2 separate regions of the Homo sapiens genome follow, and region 2 is linked to region 1. The links come from fine-mapping of genetic effects on gene expression. A gene starts in region 1. The other region holds a variant in brackets. All regions are shown on one strand. Distances are between the middles of the regions. Region 1 holds the start of ASB11 (ankyrin repeat and SOCS box containing 11). Region 2 overlaps ASB11 (ankyrin repeat and SOCS box containing 11).

What was found. PIP is the estimated chance that this variant, and not a neighbour inherited with it, causes the effect. A credible set is the group of variants that fine-mapping cannot tell apart.
Region 2: its variant is the best candidate, but not a certain one, in a credible set for the expression of ASB11 in skeletal muscle (GTEx, PIP 0.77).

Annotation. Positions count from the first base shown.
Region 1 is chrX:15,310,676-15,320,619 of GRCh38, forward strand. ASB11 (ankyrin repeat and SOCS box containing 11) reads right to left here and starts at 4,965. Exons shown (of 7, transcript NM_080873.3): 1 at 4,750-4,965. The coding sequence starts at 4,930. PIGA (phosphatidylinositol glycan anchor biosynthesis class A) reads right to left here. Exons shown (of 6, transcript NM_002641.4): 6 at 8,781-9,944.
Region 2 is chrX:15,273,950-15,283,758 of GRCh38, forward strand. It overlaps ASB11 (ankyrin repeat and SOCS box containing 11), which reads right to left. Exons shown (of 7, transcript NM_080873.3): 7 at 7,748-9,680. The coding sequence ends at 9,556. Among named protein-coding and RNA genes, the nearest start is that of ASB9, 8.8 kb to the left of the region's middle. The variant T/G (reference allele first, on the strand shown) is at 5,589.

The sequences.
Region 1 (9,944 bases):
CTGTTTTTTTATTTAAAAAGATGACCCAACAGCCGGGCGCGGTGGCTTATGCCTGTAATCCCAGCACTTTGGGAGGCCAAGGCAGGTGGATAACCTAAGGTCAGGAGTTCGAGACCAGCCTGGCCAACATGGTGAAACCCTGTCTCTACTAAAAATACAAAAATTAGCCAGTGTGGTGGCGGGCGCCTGTACTCCCAGCTACTCAGCAGGCTGAGGCAGGAGAATCACTTGAACCCAGGAGGCAGAGGTTGCAGTGAGCCGAGATCACATCACTGCACTCCAGCTTGGGCAATAAGAGCGAAACTCCAACTCAAAAAATAAAAAATAAAATCATATGAAACAAATCTTCTGTAGCATTTATTAAGGAAAAGAAAATTCATAAGGAATTTTAATTTTGAACCAAAATACAGGCAAGAGCCTAGCAGAATTAATGGTATTTTATGTGAAACAAAGGTAACTGGGAAAATAGAATGTATTTCCTGAGATATCTAAAATATTGTAATAAAACTGAGTTAAAATAAATATTCTCCAGAATGTCCAGTCCTAGAGAGGAGATGAGACACAGTGAGCTGTGTTAGACACAATTAACTATGTTGCAGTGTATTAGAAAGAAGGCTCCTTTGAACTCTTAAGGGCGGGAGAGCTGAGCTAAAGGAGACTGGTGGAAGGTAGAGCCTCTGCCAAGGACTGGTTGTCCCAACCTAGGAAAAGCCAGCAGGCACCTGATATGCAACTTAGAGGATGGTTAGGCCAATGTTTGTGGAGACAACCAGCAAAACTAAATAAGAGCAGAAGGCTAGGTCGAGGTTTGGGCAAGAATGAAACTAAGGCGATCCTATTGGAATGGAAAAGACAGGAAAAAGGATTCAGAATGCTGAGTTAGGCAGAGGCATAGCTGTCAAATCATGGTCAGTCCATCAACAAGTGATTTTAAGCATAAAACTTAGAATAGGACTGATCTTTTAGACACAGCTTAAAATAGCCCTTTTTTTTTTTGAAAGAGGGCACTACAGTTCTACAACGTCTTATCTGCACTTGTAAAGTTCCTCCAATTCTGAAAACCAAGCTTTACCCCAAATTTGATGCAAACTTGTTTAGCAGCAAAGCATGGCCAGGACTTAGGTTAAGCAATTTATTATTTGTTTTATATTTCCATCTAGTGTGAATACCTATATGTTCACTATAGAAAGATCAAAATGTTTGACTGTGGGAGGCAGCTCCAGGCCCCACCAGAAGTGCTGTGCAATAGACAGTATGCACATTGTATGATCTTTCTAACATTCAAAAGCTATTGAATTCTGAAACATGGCTGGCTGAAGGGTTATGAATAACAGATGATCAATCTGTATCTACACTATATTTTCTTTCTTGATGACCAAGTCACAGTACTAAACATAGCTTAATACAAATTAGCAAAGCTTGAAAAATCATACAATACATCTCTCCTGAGAAAGTGCCTGCAGAAATATCTATGGACTGAAGGTGGGATCCAGTGATCCATCTGGTGCTCTAGGCATAACACCAAAGGCCAAGGACAATGTATTAAACTTTAAAAAAGAAAAAAAAATATACATATAATAGACAAAATAAACAAAGAAGCTTAAAAACCAAAACTAATAACAGTCAACCATGGCTTAATTCAACTATGATGAGTGATCAGCAAATGTAATAGTTTAAGCCACAAAGACATATAAAATAATGTATTCCAGACTATGAAATCCACCCCCACCCGCCCACTGCACAAAAAAAAAAAAAAAAAAACAACTTTCCAAAAGGTTTTACAGCACAAAGAATGATATTTAATGAGGCATGTGGTGTTAAATGCAGCTTCCAAAAAAAAAAAAAAAAAAGAGTGCTCTGGACCTACAAAAGTCTAACCTGTGTGCTGGCTAGGTTTTTCCTGCCCTTCCTTGCTTTTGACATTGCTGACAATAGTTTACAGGAATAGCATATGCTAGCAGACTCAAGAAACTTAACCTTGGGCTGGGACTTTTGTAAGTCAATTAGCTAATTTACTGATTAAATGTCATATATTTTCCCAACAAACATTTGTCTGACCAGTGCAAAAGTGACCAAAAGCAAAGGTGATTTCTGGTTTGAGTTTGATTTCTGGTTTGAGTTTAACACTTCCACAAAATTTTGTTCTTGATTTTTAATACACCTAAATATATTGTTATGGGATAATTTAGGAATTAGAGAGACTGAGGGGTTGAGGAGGATTTATTGTTTAGGTGTATTGGCCTAGTTGCATTAATATTTAAAGGACTGGGTTTTGAATAAAGAGTTGTTATTTTTTAAGTATTTTGTGGGGCGGGGGAAGATTTGTAATAATATAGTATCTGACTGTTAACAGTGGTATCAAAAGAAAAACACAGAACCATGTGAAAAATACTGGTCCAGGCATGTTACTGCCTACATTCTTATAGAAAGACTTATTTAGCGGCCAGGCACAGGTGCTCACACCTATAATCCCAGCACTTTGGGAGGCCAAGGTGGGCAGATCACTTGAGGTCAGGAGTTCGAGACCAGCCTGGCCAACATAGCGAAACCCCATCTCTACTAAAAATACAAAAATTAGCCGGGCGTGGTGGCGTGCGCCTATAATCCCAGCTACTCAGGAGGCTGAGGCACGAGAATTGCTTGAACCCCAGAGGAGGAGGTTGCACTGAGCTAAGATCGTGCCACTGAACTCCAGCCTGGGTGACAGAGCAAGAATCCATCTCAAAACAAACAAAAAAACAGAAAGTCTTATTTACCAAATCTTGGTAAATTTGGGGGTGGGGGGATTCGTGTATATGTATACACACACACACACACATATACATATATATATGAAAGAAATAAAACTGGGAAATTAACATGCACCATTCCCTGCCTCTTTAACAATAATTGAAAAATGTTTTTGACCTTAGAATACTATGCTACTTGCAAATTAACCTATTTTAAGAGATTGAACAAGTAAAGATATTTGCACTACAGAATGAACGAACTGTATTTAAGAGATTTGTATTCCAGCTCCAGATTAAATTCAAACCATGCTTACATGGGTTTTGACTATAAGGAGGTTTTATACCTTTTTTAAGAGTGCACTTGAGGCCGGGCGCGGTGGCTCACGCCTGTAATCCCAGCACTTTGCGAGGCCGAGGCGGGCGGATCATGAGGTCAGGAGTTCAAGACCAGCCTGGCCAACATGGTGAAACCCTGTCTCTACTAAAAATACAAAAAAATTAGCTGGGCATGGTGGCGTGTGCCTGTAATCCCAGCTACTCAGGAGGCTAAGACAGGAGAATTGCTTCAACCGGGACCTGGGAGGCGGAGGTTGCAGTGAGCCGAGATGGTGCCACTGCACTCCAGCCTAGGCTACAGAGCGAGACTCCATCTCAAAAAAAAAAAAAAAAAAAAAGAGTGCACTTAATTAAAGACCACAAAGACAGAAATAATGCGCAGGTGCAACAGGAGAAAACATTTGTAACATGTTCTTGCCAATATTGACTTTGTTGGACTTCATCTAATTTAGACCAGAAGAATGATTTATCTATGAGAACACCAAAACTATTATTGAAAATTTTAGAAAGCCCTTGCCCAAATTGACAAATTAAATTAGAAGATAACTTTTCAGATCATGCTTAACTTGAAACTTATCAGAAGCATTACTTTTTTTTTTTTTTTTTGTAACTAGTCAAAGTAACATACCTCCCTGAAATGTGTGACAAATATAATCCCCAAAAGAAATCTCTTTCCATGGTCCGGACCTTCTGATACGTTCTGAAACTTCACAATTCTTCTCATTTTCCCCAGTTAATTGAAGCATTCTGATGCTTCGTCCTTGGAGGTCTTATTTCTTTAGATAAGACTGCTGTTGTCTAGTGTCTTCTGAGTTGTCTAGTGTATTGGAATCACATAAGACTATTTTGAAAGAGAATCCTGGATGCAAATTGAAATGGATACTAGATAAAGAATGATGTAATCCTGGAACCCCTGCAAACACTAAAAATACACGGGGAAATTCTGAACTCTGTTTATGAATAAATACTCCTCTATTAAGTGACAATCCCAGGAGTGACAGGGATATCTGACTCATTTACTTTTGTAGCATCTCACCACAATTAAAGTAAATCATTTCTTGAAAGAAATGGACACTATTCTCTACAAAGCATGAGAATTTAAAATGTTTTGCCCAAATCTTGGCATTTCATGTTAGAATAAACTTTGTTTGGAGTGCTTTGCATGCTACCATATAAAATGGGTTTAGTGAAGAGCTTTTCCTGACAGTGACAAGTGGTTAATCAATTCCAGTTGCAAATGACAGCAAAAAAAATACACATAGCTTGCCACGTTTGCTGCTTTAATTATAATTTATTAGTCATTCTATTTCCTGAGAGAATTTAGTCTGGTTAGAATGCCCTTCATTGTTAAAGTTTGCTTTAAAATATTAAAGAAAATAATTATATACAAGTAATTACTTTGGCTAGTAGAAATGAAGTTTCTCAAAATACTCTTAGTAAGCCACTACCTATTTACTTCTTAAATAACAACTGCTACAAGATCTACGAACTTGCAAAAAATAAAGCTGAAAATCCTCCACAAATTGATGCAGCCAACAGCATTTGCTACTTTAAGTGACAATTTTTCAAACTACCCACTTAAAATCAAAGTATAAATATAATCTGCCTTCCAGAAATACTAGTCATATGAATTATCTAGGAGGGATTTTCTTTAAATATTAGGAACAAATTCATGTACTTTTACCTGAAATTCCACCATAGATCTCTTCTGCTATCCTAGCCGCTTCTTTTCTATTTCCTTTGACGATATAGAAATGGGTTAGGAGAGCCAAAAAAACTTTAATTAAAAGCTTAAAGAAAAAAAACGTAGCAAACATTGTAATAAAAATGTTTTTAAAGCCATAGAAAACAGGACCATCTTCCATTTTGGCTTATGCTCTGTATAGGGTCCTAGGACTGTAAAATTTCACTGAGTTATAATTGGTATCATATGACATCTATTTTAAACCTTCTAGCACTCAGTGCTCCTGTTACCGAGATCTCTGTAGGTTCTAATCTAACTGATTTGGCGACTGCATGTGCTGACTCCACAGCAGTGTTAAATAAACTAAAGAAACTTCCTTCTAACCAGAAACATCCAATAGTTCTAGAACTACATAACTCAGTACTATCTAACAGATAAGATTCATATCCAAACATTTTATATTCCTAAACCCCTATTTTTCCTATTTTATGTTAGAAAGCAGGGTTGGAAAGATAGAAACTTCTTGGCTTCCACAGAAACAAAGCAAGTTATTTGACATACAAAAGAAGTGCAAATATGCTGTATGTTCTAAGTGGGAAATACTACTCCCTGGAGCATTTCATTTTCTCTTAATTCTGAAGTTTATAGAGGATTAAATCCAAATCTAAAATATGACCAGTTAAAAAAGACCATTTACCTGGCCGGGCGCGGTGGTTGACTCCTGTAATCCCAGCACTTTGGGAGGCTGAAGCAGGCGGATCACCTGAGGTCAGGAGTTTGCGACCAGCCTGGCCAACATGGCGAAACCCCCGTCTCTACTAAAAGTACAAAAATTAGCTGGGCGTGGTGGCAGGTGCCTGTAATCCCAGCTACTCAGGAGGCTGAGGCAGGAGAATTGCTTGAACCTGGGAGGCGGAGGTTGCAGTGAGCCGAGATCGCGCCACTGCACTCCAGCCTGGGTGACAAGAGCAAGATTCTGTCTCAAAAAAAAAAAAAAAAAAGACAATTTACCCTAAAGCTGTATGTATGTATGTATGCATGTATGCACGTATGTATGTATTTAGTTTTAAGATGGAGTCTTACTCTGTTGCCCAGGCTGGAGTGCAATGGTGCGATCGCGGCTCACTGCAACCTCTGCCTCCTGGGTTCAAGCGATTCTCCTGCCTCAGCCTCCCAAGAAGCTGGGATTACAGGCATGCGTCACCACGCCTGGATAATTTTCGTATTTTTAGTAGAGACGAGGTTTCGCCATGTTGGCCAGGCTGGTCTCGAACCCCTGACCTCAGGTGATCCACCCACTTTGGCCTCCCAAAGTGCTAGGATTACAGGTGTGAGCCACTGCACCCGGCCAAGCCTGTATTTAATAAAAGGCCTATCTTGGATGCCTCTCCAAGTAAGTGTCACACTAGAAGCATCAGACTACTCGCCATGGTAGTTCCATCTGGGACAAGGTCCCATGGCAAGGTTCCCTCCTGATCATTCACTTGCATTTCAAGCATTGGTAAAGGTGGTGCCCATTTCTGAAAAATGTGGGCTATCCTTGATCATGGAAGAGTCATAGTGAAATGGACAAAAGAGATGCCCTAGGTTCTGGATGAAGTACCCAAATATTTCATGAATCAACCTTCTCTAGTTGGGCAATTTTCTCTTATCAGCTGGCCAACACAAGTGAAATGGGTTTATTTTTAGTTTTCCTCATCACTCTAGGTCTCTGCCTTCATTCTTGGCTATGTTCGATTTTGTAAATTTTAAAAATCAATTGAAAAGACAAGCCAAAATATAGTTATACAAGTGGCCTAATAAATCTTAACAAATGATTTATGCAAAAATATGGGAATTTCTCCTAGCATGCAGGCAAATTAGAATGACTGCCTGGTTAAGAACTGTTTCACTACATTAAAAAGCTGACATGTAAGAATACAATCTTGAGTCACAACATACAGCTCATCGATTTCAGTGTATCAGAGCACTATAAAGACCTTGAGTCGTCTTAACTCTCAAGGAACAGACATTAACATAAGATTTACTTTACTGAGCTTATATTACCTGGTAGAATGCCAGTGTATGAAAATACATGAATACAACTCTTTTAGTCCTTTTCATTTATCTTTCTTCAATTATACTCTAAGTAGGCAATCATTTAGTCATGTCAGACCAGTGATGTACATTGTTCTATAACATTATTCAATCTTGTTTTGGTCTTTTCATTTAAAACATGGCTGTCCTATGTTTTACACGCCAAAAAAGTTGGCCATGAAAAGCTCAACTTTATTAAGGTTCAAATGGGTGTCTATACTATTTCTGAGAGGCCATCTTTTTTTTTTTTTTTTTTTTTTGAGACGGAGTCTCACTCTGACTCCTAGGCTGGAGTGCAGTGGCGCAATCTCGGCTCACTGCAAGCTCCGCCTCCCGGGTTCACGCCATTCTCCTGCCTCAGCCTCCCAAGTAGCTGGGACTACAGGTGCTCGCCACCACGCCCAGCTAATTTTTTGTATTTTTAGTAGACACGGGGTTTCACCGTGTTAGCCGGGATGGTCTCGATATCCTGACCTCGTGATCCGCCCACCTCGGCCTCCCAAAGTGCTGGGATTACAGGCGTGAGCCACCATGCCCGGCAAGACCATCTTTACTATATTTGAACATTACATTTGTGATGGGCATAAAAGGCTACTGATACATAAGGACAGTTGATTCATGCTATCTTTCACAGATGAAATCATCAACAGCACCAAGGTTTCTCAGCCTCAGCACTATTGACATTTTGGGACAGATACATGTGTTGTGGGGGATGGCCCAGAGCATCGCGGAATGCTTAGCAGCAACCCTGACCTCTACTCACTTGATGCCAATGCCCCACCCCACCTAGTAGTAACAACCAGACATTGCCAGATGTCCCCTGGGAAACAAAACTGTCCCCCCAAGCCCTAGTTGAGAACCACTGAGCCATACCCAAATAGAAATGATAAAGGATAAAAATCAGTTCCCCCAAGTACTAAAGGCTACAAATCAAATTCTACATAGAACTTTTTCATAATTTTATATTAAAAAATCCAGCCACAGGATGATACAATTCAACATCTAGCCACATCCATTTGGGAATGCAGAGATGGATAAAGAGGCTTTAAAATTACTTCACAAAAGTAAACACAGACCTATACTACCCTGACTTTGCCAAAAATAAGTTTTGGCATAAGATAAATCAAAACATAAACATAGGTGACTGCTTTCCACTGCTTCCCACAAAAGGAGTGGGAGAAACTAAATCAGGGATGTCCAATCTTTTGGCTTCCCTGGGCCACGCTGGAAGATTTGTCTTGGGCCACACATAAAATACACTAACAGCAGATCATGAGATCAGGAGTTCGAGATCAGCCCGGCCAAAATGGTGAAACCCCATCTCTACTAAAAAATACTAAAGTTAGCCAGTGTGGTGGTGGGCGCCCGTAATCCCAGCTACTCAGGAGGTTGAGGCGGGAGAATCATTTGAACCCGGGAGGCGGAGGTTGCAGTGAGCCAAGATCGTGCCACTGCACTCCAGCCTGGGCAACAAGAGCGAAACTCCGTCTCAAAAATATATAAATAAATAAATGAAAATACCCTAATAGCTGATGAGCTAAAAAAAAAAGAAAGAAAGAAAGAAAGAAAATCACAAGTCTCATAATGTTTTAAGAAAGTTTACAAATTTGTGTTGGGCAAAGTAGAAAGCATAATTATGTAGCTCACATACACAGTATAGTTTGTAGATATTTTCCTTGTCTCACGTGATAATGCTAGGGCAATGAAAAACAAGGGCTTATTTGGGTAAGGAAACAAAGGCACAATTGAACTCGCTATTCCATGAGTGAGAGAGAGAAGATATTCTAGAAACAAAAAATGACAGAGTAATTCATCGCCCAAAGGGTATTTCTTGTTTTACTAATAGACCAAGCAACACATCCAAATTGCACTGAAAAAGAATGTGTCGGGGGCAGGGATAGCCTGTTCCACTAGTAAATAATAGTCTGTTCATAAAATAAGACAAACTCAGAAAATTATCAAAATGTCATTCTGGTCTTTATTTTTGGACATGTAGCATGTTTTAACAAATCAGTTTTTCATAGGCAACCTTTTGAAACATCAAAAGAAATACAATATATTTTTCACAAATTTCTCATCACTGTAAATTCACTTTAAAATCAACTAAGTAGCAGGGTAGAGCAATGTGTTTCCATATACCGACCAGTGCAAACTGACAGTTACAATTAAGGTATCCAGAAAGGTTGAAAATTAAGATTTACGTGAAACAAATTTACTTCCATTTGTTAAAAAAAAGAAAAATAATAATTTGCAAATCACATGTTTTACAGGCAAAGGCAACTAACTTTAGATCTTATTTCCATCTCAAATAAATGACAGTTTAAGAATTAAATGACAATTTAAAAAAATTAAGCAAAAATATAAGGAAAAAATGGTGGCATGCCTCTAAAACCTGTTGAATAGAATAATGGCCAAATATTACAGTTTCTCACTTTCCTATGAATACTGGCACTGTTTATTTCATGTTTATATGTGAGTTTCTATGCATAAAAATCCCAGTAAGACTGAATAGTTTAAAGATCAGTCCATTTTTCTCCAACAAAACCCCTAACTTCTAGATTTTAAAAATTGCACTCTTGCTTTTGCATTTTAGTACAAACAAAACACAAATATATTTCTTTTATATCAGTGCAACCAGTTAATAGGCATGTTATTTTTTAAAAAGTAATAAATTTTGTGAATGTTGTCATTTTTAAAAATCCTATACAGAATCACAACACTGTCAGAATCTATGTAGTGCACCCACAAGTGCCTTATTGTTTTGAATTCACAGTCCTTTTCTCACAAAAACCTTAAGAGTTCAAAGAATTCATAATACACACCATGTGGATAATTTGGGGTTAAAAAACCCATGGCTCTGGGCAACAACAATGACAGTTAATAACATCCACCCACAAAGACTGTTTCTAAAATTTTCAACTTAGTTTGCTATAAATAAACCATTCTGAAGTAAAGCCTTTTGCACACTGACAATACTTATCAGACATCAGCGAGGCCACAGTGAAGGGGAGTGACTTACATTAAAAGGACAGGGTAGCAGCTGGTTTTGGGATGGCACACCTCGTACATTCTGCTCAGAAAACACGAAGGCATTTATAGAAAACTCAATTATGCACTGA
Region 2 (9,809 bases), 37 kb before region 1:
GAGTGAAGGGGTTTATGGAGGAAAAAGGTGTGGGAAAATGTGGGAATATCAAGGGAGGGAAGAGCTCTGTGTGTCTCTTTCCCATGGCTATCTTTACTAATCGCCAGCCCGGAAGTCCAGTTTGTGTCATCCTCACTTCTGCCCGGTAGTGGTGGGCTAACTGTTCATAACTCCCCCAAGCAGGAGGATTCTGCTGCTGGGTCTCTGTGCCTTTTTTTTTTTTTTTGCTTAAAAATTGACCCCTGGAATTTCTAAGCAAGCATGTAATTAGATAAGTGAGCACTGTTCACAAAAGTGCCTGGTGGAAAAGAGAGAAACAAAGAGTTTCAAAGTATGTTTCAACGCTGAAAGCAAGAAAGAAAAAAAAAAGTTTTAAAATGCATTTTGAGGCTGGGATGCTCAGTTACACTGAGACCTTGGGGGAGCCTTCAAAGTCACTTCCAATCAGTCAAAGTTGGTCCAGGAGCTGAAGCTTCTTCTTATTTCAGCTGGCAATTTTTCTAGCACAAAACCTTTAACACCTAAAAGGTATACATCTGCTCTGACAACGTGGAATACTCTGCTTCTACTGCTTTAGAGAGAAGTCAGTCAGTCCTACTCCGCCAAGCAGTACGATAAGACTCAAATAAGAATGTGTTTTTTCAAAAATCTGGCATTATGCAGTATTCTTGAGGAAACAATCAGGCGGATCAAAATTGAGAGATAATCACATAACAATGGGACTGGACTCTTCAAAAATGCCAATGGCATGAAAGTCAAAAGCGGGGACGGGAAGCTTTCTAGATTAAAAGAGAATAAAGAGACTTGGTAACTACGTTCGATGCATGATCCTCAAAGAGATCCTGAATGGTGGAACATGACAGAAAATATATCATTAATGCCACAAGTGTGAGAACTTAAATCTGGATATACAGGATAGTTGTGCATCAGTGTCAAACCTCCTGTGTGTGATTACTACACCACAGTTCCACAGGAGAATCTCTGTGTTCTTAGGAGATGCACACTGAACTGCTCTGTGCTGAACCATATGGGAGCAAGAGGCCAAAAGGGAAATGTATGCCTTTATGCATATTTTGCACCAAGTATAAAAAGTTAATGTAAGCTGCGCAGTCAAAACACAAGTATGTATAAAGCCTGCGTTGCCCAATCTGTTTGCATGGCATTGTCACTCCTCAAAAACCCAGCAGCCACATATCCCAGAACCAGAGGCTGATTGGAAACACTATTCTCATTGCACAATAATGCAGGGACATAAACAACAAGAGCCTGTCTTGCAGGCTATTTTGGCTATCATGGGCTTTTTGCCTTAACATTGACTTTTCAAAACAGTGCACTAAAATATGCACATCAATGACTTTTTTTGCCCTCTTAAATTTTTTGCCTCACTCACCTAATCCTGATTCTAGCCCTGGTGAAGGATCATGATGCCCACAACTTACAAATCGTTCATTTTTTTAATATATGGATATGTGTTAATCATATATGAGTTTACATATATGGGTGTGTGTGCACATGTGCATTTATATATGTATATATGTGTATACATTTGTATATGCATATGTATGTGTATACATGCCTGTATATGTATATGTGTGTATATATGCATGTACATGTATATACATACATGTACTTGTATATATGTGTGTGTGCATACACACATACATAGAGAAGCAAATGTAGCAAAATGCTAACAATTGGTGAATTGAGGTGATGGGCATACAGATATTAATTGTTTTATTGAAAATTTTTTGTAAGCTGGAAACTTCAAGATATAACAACGGTGGGAGAAGAAAAATTAATAAATGGAAATTAAGACCTGGTGTACATTTGTTTACAAGCAAATTTGTTAAAATAAGAAGCTACTATTTCAAGTATGATCTGTGTATTTGTCCTGGTACAGGCTCTGCTAAGGGAAGGAGATGATGTATTCCATATACAAATGGAATATATCCATGCAAGTGCCGCCCCTGGCAGTGATAATGCAATGGGTAAAAACGTGAAGTCCTGCAGTGTGGAGAGCATCCTCCCCCACAAGTTGTGGTTATTCAGCGATTCATCCCTCACCATGGCAGCTTCAGGTGATGTCTCTGAAGTGTCAGCTATTCTCTTTGCGTTCAATTCATAAAATCTTCTCAGCAATGAGCATTGTTACTGAAAAAAGATTCATGTACAAACCTCATGTTTATTTGACAAAGCAATATGAGAAATAAAAGACAGGAGAATTACTTTGGGAGAAACAGTTCCTTAATCAAATGTGAACCAAAATTAGAGACGTTGGATTACATACCTAAACATTTAAATAATTTAAGGAATTTAGAAGGTGTTGAGACTTAAATCTTCAAGTGACATAGCAAGCTTATTTTTTATTTTTTATTTTTATTTTTTGAGACGTAGTCTTGTTCTGTTGCCCAGGCTGGAGTGCAGTGGTGCGATCTTGGCTCACTGCAAGCTCCGCCTCCCGAGTTCACGCCATTCTCCTGCCTCAGCCTCCCGAGTAGCTGGGACTACAGGCGCCCGCCAACACGCCTGGCTAATTTTTTGTATTTTTTAGTAGAGACGGGGTTTCACCGTGTTAGCCAGGATGGTCTCGATCTCCTGACCTCGTGATCCGCCCGCCGTGGCCTCCCAAAGTGCTGGGATTACAGGCGTGAGCCACTGCGCCCAGCCTATTTTTTTTAAATAAAAGGTAAAGGTAGATGATGGACTGATACAGTCATATAAATAATAGCTAGCTAAATAGATGGTAAATACATATATGTCTACATAGACATAGTCAGATGGTTTATGGATAGGCAATATTGGGTATTTGGTTATGAAAATATTCATTCCTTAAAATGATTCATTGTGTATATATTTTAAATTATTTTAAACTATTATTTTAAATAGTTTTTATATGTAAACCACACTTCTGGAAATCTAAGAAATACTTCAAACATTTTTGAAGATTTATTTTAAAATGAGGTTGACATCAATGTTATCTATAATAGCAAGAAACTAGAAATAATTTAAGTATCTAACAATATGGAAATACTTAAGGAATATGATATATTTTAAAAGGTTGTCCCAAAGGGTTTGAAACAGAAAATCATTACAATATGGTTTATGGGAAAAGCTGGAATCATAGATACTTTTATAATAGGATATCTATGTTAAATCAGGCAAAGGAATAAAAAATATGATGCACTGAAAATACTGAAAAATCTTAACAGTAAAAGTTAACTAATAAATATTATATACATATGTGAGTAGTTAGTTATTCCAAAATTCAGTCACCCTGCCAGGGACCTTGCCTAATCAGCTTATCTAAAATAGTAAGCCTCTTTCATCACTCTTTAATCTGCTTTATTTTTCTTTTTATCACTTCCTGATATGATATTATATTTGTATTGTTTATTCCCTGTTGTCCTCACTAACACATGAGTTTTTTGGAAGCAAACAGCATGTCTGTCTTTCACAATGTTCTACAGTGTCTGGCACATAGTAGATGCCAAGTAAAAAATGTATTAAAGGAATTAATTGAGAAGCTATCTTAGGGCACTTCAAATATGACTGAAATTGTAAAAATATACTGTTTTGGGAAAAAAACATCCCATATAGTGTAAAAAGTGAAATAATCTGTATTAGTATCTAAGAACCCCAAACCGCAGGCAAAATGGAAACTGAAGGGTTAATTTGATCAGGTCTGTCCGCCCTGCTTGCTTTTGGTGGCTTGCTTTTTGTTATTTCTTTTCTTTTTTCATGAAGCTGAAGGCTACAGTAGTTGAATGCCACCCTGCTGAACTCTGAAACTTAACCTTCACTGGCTACTTTATAAATAACATTCATAGTTCACCACAGTAATGATTGCTTCAGTTGTTTTTCAGGAACTTGGGCCAGCTCCTGTCCAGTTCAAACCAGTTAAGGCCACTGGCTCTTCAACTAGGCCTCCACAAGTGCCTGAGAAATGGCCTTCTGAATGTCAGAAGACCAAAAATGCCACCCTCAGATCATGCTAATGCCACTATTTTGGGTTTATATGTCCTATGTAATGTCATGAACCCTGGCTATGCTTGCACAGAATAAACCTGTTACTTTTATCCCCACTGTCAATTACTTTTCCCCATGCCTTAGACCACCCCACTTCCCTAACCCGTAAATATAGCTAAGGCTTATCTTTGGGAAGGTGGATTTGAGCACTGTTCTCCTGCTTTCTTGCTTGGCAGCCTTGTGAATAAATCTTTTCTCTTTTGCAAAACCCGTATCACAGTGATTGGTTTACTGCATGCAAGCAGAACAAACCTGGATCTAAAGTTGGTAACAAAATAATGTCATAAAAACCAGATGATTAGTCTGATGGTCTAAATATAGCTTAATGGATTAGGCCTTAAAAGGAACTTAAAGATTACCTCTTGTCTAATACATTCATTCATAAATTGTAAGACATCGGCACCACTCTAGGATTCAGGGACCTGGACAATCAGATGGATTCTGGTGAATGGTTGTTCAGGATTTGAGTGCCACCTCCTCCCCCAACACAAATACAGTCCTACCAGTGTTGGGAGGTCCATATAAATGATTTGTGGCATCCATGGTCTGCAGTTGCAGTGGGCAATGGAACACTTCCCTGGGGTCACAGACTGGTTGAATGTCCTAGAGCCTCCCGGGGCTTAACACAGTACTCAGACATTCAGCAAGATCCCAGATGACAAAAAAAAAAAAAAAAAAAAATGCACTCGCGAGAACACTTTGAAGGAAAGCCTCCAATTCCTAAACGTTCTATGATAGGAAGAGACTGTCCGTTCTTTCCTCTTTGATCGTTCCATGGCTAATGATGGCTCAAATGGCTCCTCATCCTGTTTCAAATCCATCCTTTCTTTCAATCAATTTTCCATCTTTAACATTCTTATGACTATTTATTTGTATGTTATTTGATAAGTTTACTATTCATTCCCTTTGCTAATATTTCTATTCATGAACCTATATTATTCTTATTGGTTTGTAAATGAACTCTTTATATGTTGAAATGTAGATATCAGCTGAGATCATTCTGCCCTTCAATATTTGGGGCGCATTGAATTGTACCTCCTTTCATGGCCATTGGACTTACGCTGTACCTTCCTCAAGATTTGTGAAAATTGACTTTCCTAAGGTTTGCAAACACTCTTCAGTTTTTCTCGTCACATCTCTCATAGAAGGAGAATTTGATCCCACCTGAAACAGGTAAGTTTACATATTGTTTTGCCACCACGTCATGCAATACATATATTATAGCATGTAGAGCCAGATAAATAATCTAGGTTCTTTCCTTAATATCTTCTAAAAAATGCACAAGGTATCATATACATTTTAGACTTTACTGAAGGTTTGGGTAATATTTACATCCTTGTTCACCAAAATTCTCCACTGGGAAAAGGAGAAAGCTAAGGGTGGGATCTGACAGTCTCCTTTGCCCTAGAATATTGACTTTTGATCTGCTATAAATGTCACATACAGTTTTCCTCTATTTTGGTTTGCCATTTCATTTTATATATGGCATTTTTTGCAACATAATTTTTGGTGTATTCCAGTTTATCGGTATTTTCCTTTAACCTTTCTGCCTTTGATATATT[T/G]CAAAAATGCTTTCCCTTTCATGTATATTCATGTAATTTTCTTATAGTATTTTTATAGCAGTATTTAATTTTTTAAACTTTTTTTTAAAAACAAGATTTGTTTTGGAAATACGATGTAAGATCAAAATGTAACCTTTTCCCCCCAGATAATTAACTAATTAAGATTATTAGATATTCCAAAATTGTAAAAATCAGAAAATGATTTAGAGTACTGTTAATAGAAATGTAATGTGAGCCACACATGTAATGTAAAATGTTATTACAGTCACACTAAAAAAGTAAAAAGAAAGCCAGTGAAATTAATTTTAATAATATATTCTATTTAACCTAATATATTGAAAAGATTATTTCATTGTGTGATCAGCAAAAAAGTTTTTTCGTTTAATTTTATTTGGTATGTAATAACTGTATATATTTATGGGGTACAGAGTGATATTTTAATACCTAGAAGTAATCAAATCAGGGTGATTAGCATATCCATCACCTCAATCATTTATCATTTCTGCTATGAACATTCAAAATCTTCTCTTCTAGGTTTTCGAAAATACATAATAAATTATTGTTAACCACATTTACCCTACAGTGCTATGAAACACTAGAAATTATTTCTTCTATCCAATTATAATTTTGTATCCATTAACCAACATTGCCCTATTGTCCCCTCCTCACTACCCTTCCCAGCCTCTAATAAGCATAATTCTACTCTCTGTTTCTGTGAGCTCAATTTTTTTAGCTTCCACATGTAAGCAAGAACATATGGTGTTTATCTTTCTGTGCGTGACTTACTTAACATAATGTCCTCTAGGCTCATCCATGTTGCTGCAAATGACAGAATTTCCTTCTTTTTTAAGGCTGAATAGTATTTCATTTTGTATATATACCACATTTTCTTTATCCATTGATCTGTTGACAGACATTTAAGTTGATTTCATATCTTGCTTTTCTGAATAGAGCTACAATAAACATGGAGGTGCAACTACCTCTTCCATACATTGATTTCCTTTCTTTCTGATAAATATCCAGTAATGGGATTGCTGAATCATACTTGACAACAACAAAACAAATAATCTGATTTTAAAATGGGCAAAGGATCTGAATAGACATTTCTCCAAAAAAAAGACATACAAATGGCCAACAGGTATATGAAAGAATGCTCGACATCACTAATCATCAGGAAAATGCAAATCAAAACCACAATGAGGTATCATCTTACCCCAGTTAGAATGGCTATCCAAAAAATAGAAAATAACAAATGCTGGTGCAGATGTGGAGAAAAGGGAATTCTTATACACTATTGGTGGGAATGTAAATTACCACAACCACTATGGAAAACAGTATGGAAGTTTTCAAAAAATTAAAAATACAACATCAAAAGCTATTAATATTTCAAAACAAAAAAATAAAAAATAAAACAAAAAAAGAAGAGGCAGGTGGACCAGTTGAGGTCAGGAGTTTGAGACCAGCCTGGCCAACATGGTAAAACCCCATCTCTACTAAAAATACCGAAAATTAGCCGGGCATAGTGGCAGATGCCTGCAATCCCAGCTACTCCAGAGGCTGAGGCAGGAGAATCGCTTGAACCTGGGAGGCAGAGGTTGCAGTGAGCCGAGATCGTGCCATTGCACTCAAGCCTGGGTGACAAAAGCAAAACTTCGTCTCAAAAAAGAAAAGAAAAGAAAAAAGTTCATGTATTTCATATTCTTTTTTTTACTCAGTCATTAAAATGTAATATGTATTTTACACGTGCAACACATCTTAATTCAGCCTAGCCACAATTCCTGTGCTCATTAGCCATATGTGGCTAGTAGCTACCGTATTGAATAGCACAGGCTTAGAGGTTGCAATGAGCCAAGGTCATACCATTGCACTCGAGCCTGGATGACAAAAGTGAAACTCCGTCTAAAAAAGAAAACAAAACAAAGTTCATAATGTTTCATATTCTTTTTTTACTCAATCACTAAAATGTAATATGTATTTTACACTTACAACACATCTTAATTCAGCCTATCCACAATTCCTGTGCTCATTAGCCATATGTAGCTAGCAGCTACTGTATTGAATAGCACAGGCTTAGAGAAGGGTTTCTCACTCTTGGCACTATTGACATTTTGTACCTGATAATTCTTTTTTTTGTTTGTTTTTCTTTCTTTCTTTCTTTCTTTTTTTTTTTTTTGTTTTGAGACGGAGTCTCGCTCTGTCACCCAGGCTGGAGTGCAGTGGCGTGATCTTGGCTTACTGCAATCTCCGCCTCCCGGGTTCAAGTGATTCTCCTGCCTCAGCCTCCCAAGTAGCTGGGACTATAGGCACCTGCCACCACGCCTGGCTAACTTTTGTATTTTTAGTAGAGACAGGGTTTCACCATAGTGGCCAGGCGGTTCTCGAACTCCTGACAGTGCGATCTGCCTGCCTCGGCCTCCCAAAATGCTGGGATTACAGGCGTGAGCCACCATGCCCGGCCAGATCTGATAATTCTTTGTTGCTGGCTCCTGTGCACTGTAGGGTGATTAGCTGCATCCCTGATCTCCACCGTCTAGATGATAGTAGCAATTCTCCCCCAGTTGTTGCAACTAAACATGTCTGCAGACATTGACAAATGTCTCAGTGGGAGTGGGGCAAAATTGTCTCCAGTTGAGAGCCAAAGGTCTAGAAAAATTGGGGGAAAAAAAAACATGTGTGAAATGAGTCTTAGGATGATCTGAGAGGGAATTTTCATTTTAGAACTGAATACTGAACCATGACAGTAATACTTACAATAATTAAAAGTCTATCCAGTTCCCATGTTCTAAATTCACAAAAAAGAGAAAGAATAGAGGAAGAGGAGGGGTGACAGAAGGAGAGAGAAATGAGAAGAAGGAGAAGACAGAAAAGGAGAAGCCTCTTTTTATATACCTTTGTGCTTATTTTGGGCCCCTATCCACAGAAAAAAATATTGACCCAGCATTGAGCCCACTTTGGTGGCTGGCATCAGTATGTAATTATTTCAAAAACCCTGAGCATCTTGACTTTGAAAATAAGCCAGTGCTTGGGTTGCAACATGCCTCAGACAATGCCTGTGGGTTCAGGTTGTTGGGGACACCCAGTGTTCTCAATCCTAGAACTGCTTACTTCAAATAACAGCATTTAATATCAGAAGCAATAAGCAATAGATGCCAACCTCTGGGTGCACTGATCTCTTCCAAAGTCTCTCTTATCAACCAGGACCGCAGTAACTGGAAGCCTCAGTTAACTACAATGTTTCTGAAGTCCTTAACTTTATATATGTATATATATATAAAGTCTATATAAATATATATAACTTTATATATAAAGAACTTTGAAAACATATATATATAAGCTTTATACATATATTAAGGACTTTGAAAACATATATGAACTATATATATTAAGGACTTTGAAAACATTAAATATATGAGTGCATGTGTGTGTGTGTATATATATACGTATATATATATACGTATATGTATGTATATATATATACGTATATATATACAAAAAATCAAAATTATACCAGATTTATTCAAGGAAAGAAAGAAAAAAAGTGGGGAAGGGCTGAAGGAAGGAACTAAATCAAGAACATATCTTGGAATACCTAACATTTGTTATAATCTTATCCACCTGAATTTATATGTGTCTATACAATATTCAGAATGTTGACTTTTAGGTACAAGAAGATCCCGAATCATCAAAAAACAGCCTATTGTTTTCACTCTACTTCACAGTTCTTTTAAGTTTCTTAACAACAAGAGCTAAAAGCTAAATGGTTTCTACTTGCCCCTTGGTTAATGAGAACATTAAACTAACCAGGAGTTTCCACTCCTCAAGTGTTCTAGCTCATGGGGGATTTACTTCGACTGAGCTCATTTAAAGATACTAGGAGTCTAAGCTGTTGAGCTTCTACATTAGGTACTCTAGGTACAGCAGACAACAATCTGTGTCATTCCAAGTATCTTCCCAGGAACACTTAGGACTATTGGTATAGGAGGAATCGTTCGAGTGGCTCTGGCAGATGTAGCTTGTGGATGGCTTGATGACATGCTCGACCGAGACACTTCCGGACACACAGGCGGCAGAGCTGGGAAAGAGCAGGTGGGCCTGAGAGAGAAATAAAAATGGTGTTAACTTCATAGTGGTGGGAGGTGGGGTGGAAGGGGGAAATCAGAGAACTGGAAGAGGCGGAAATTTTCTAAAAGCAGAAGAGAAGCTGGATCTGTATAGGAACTA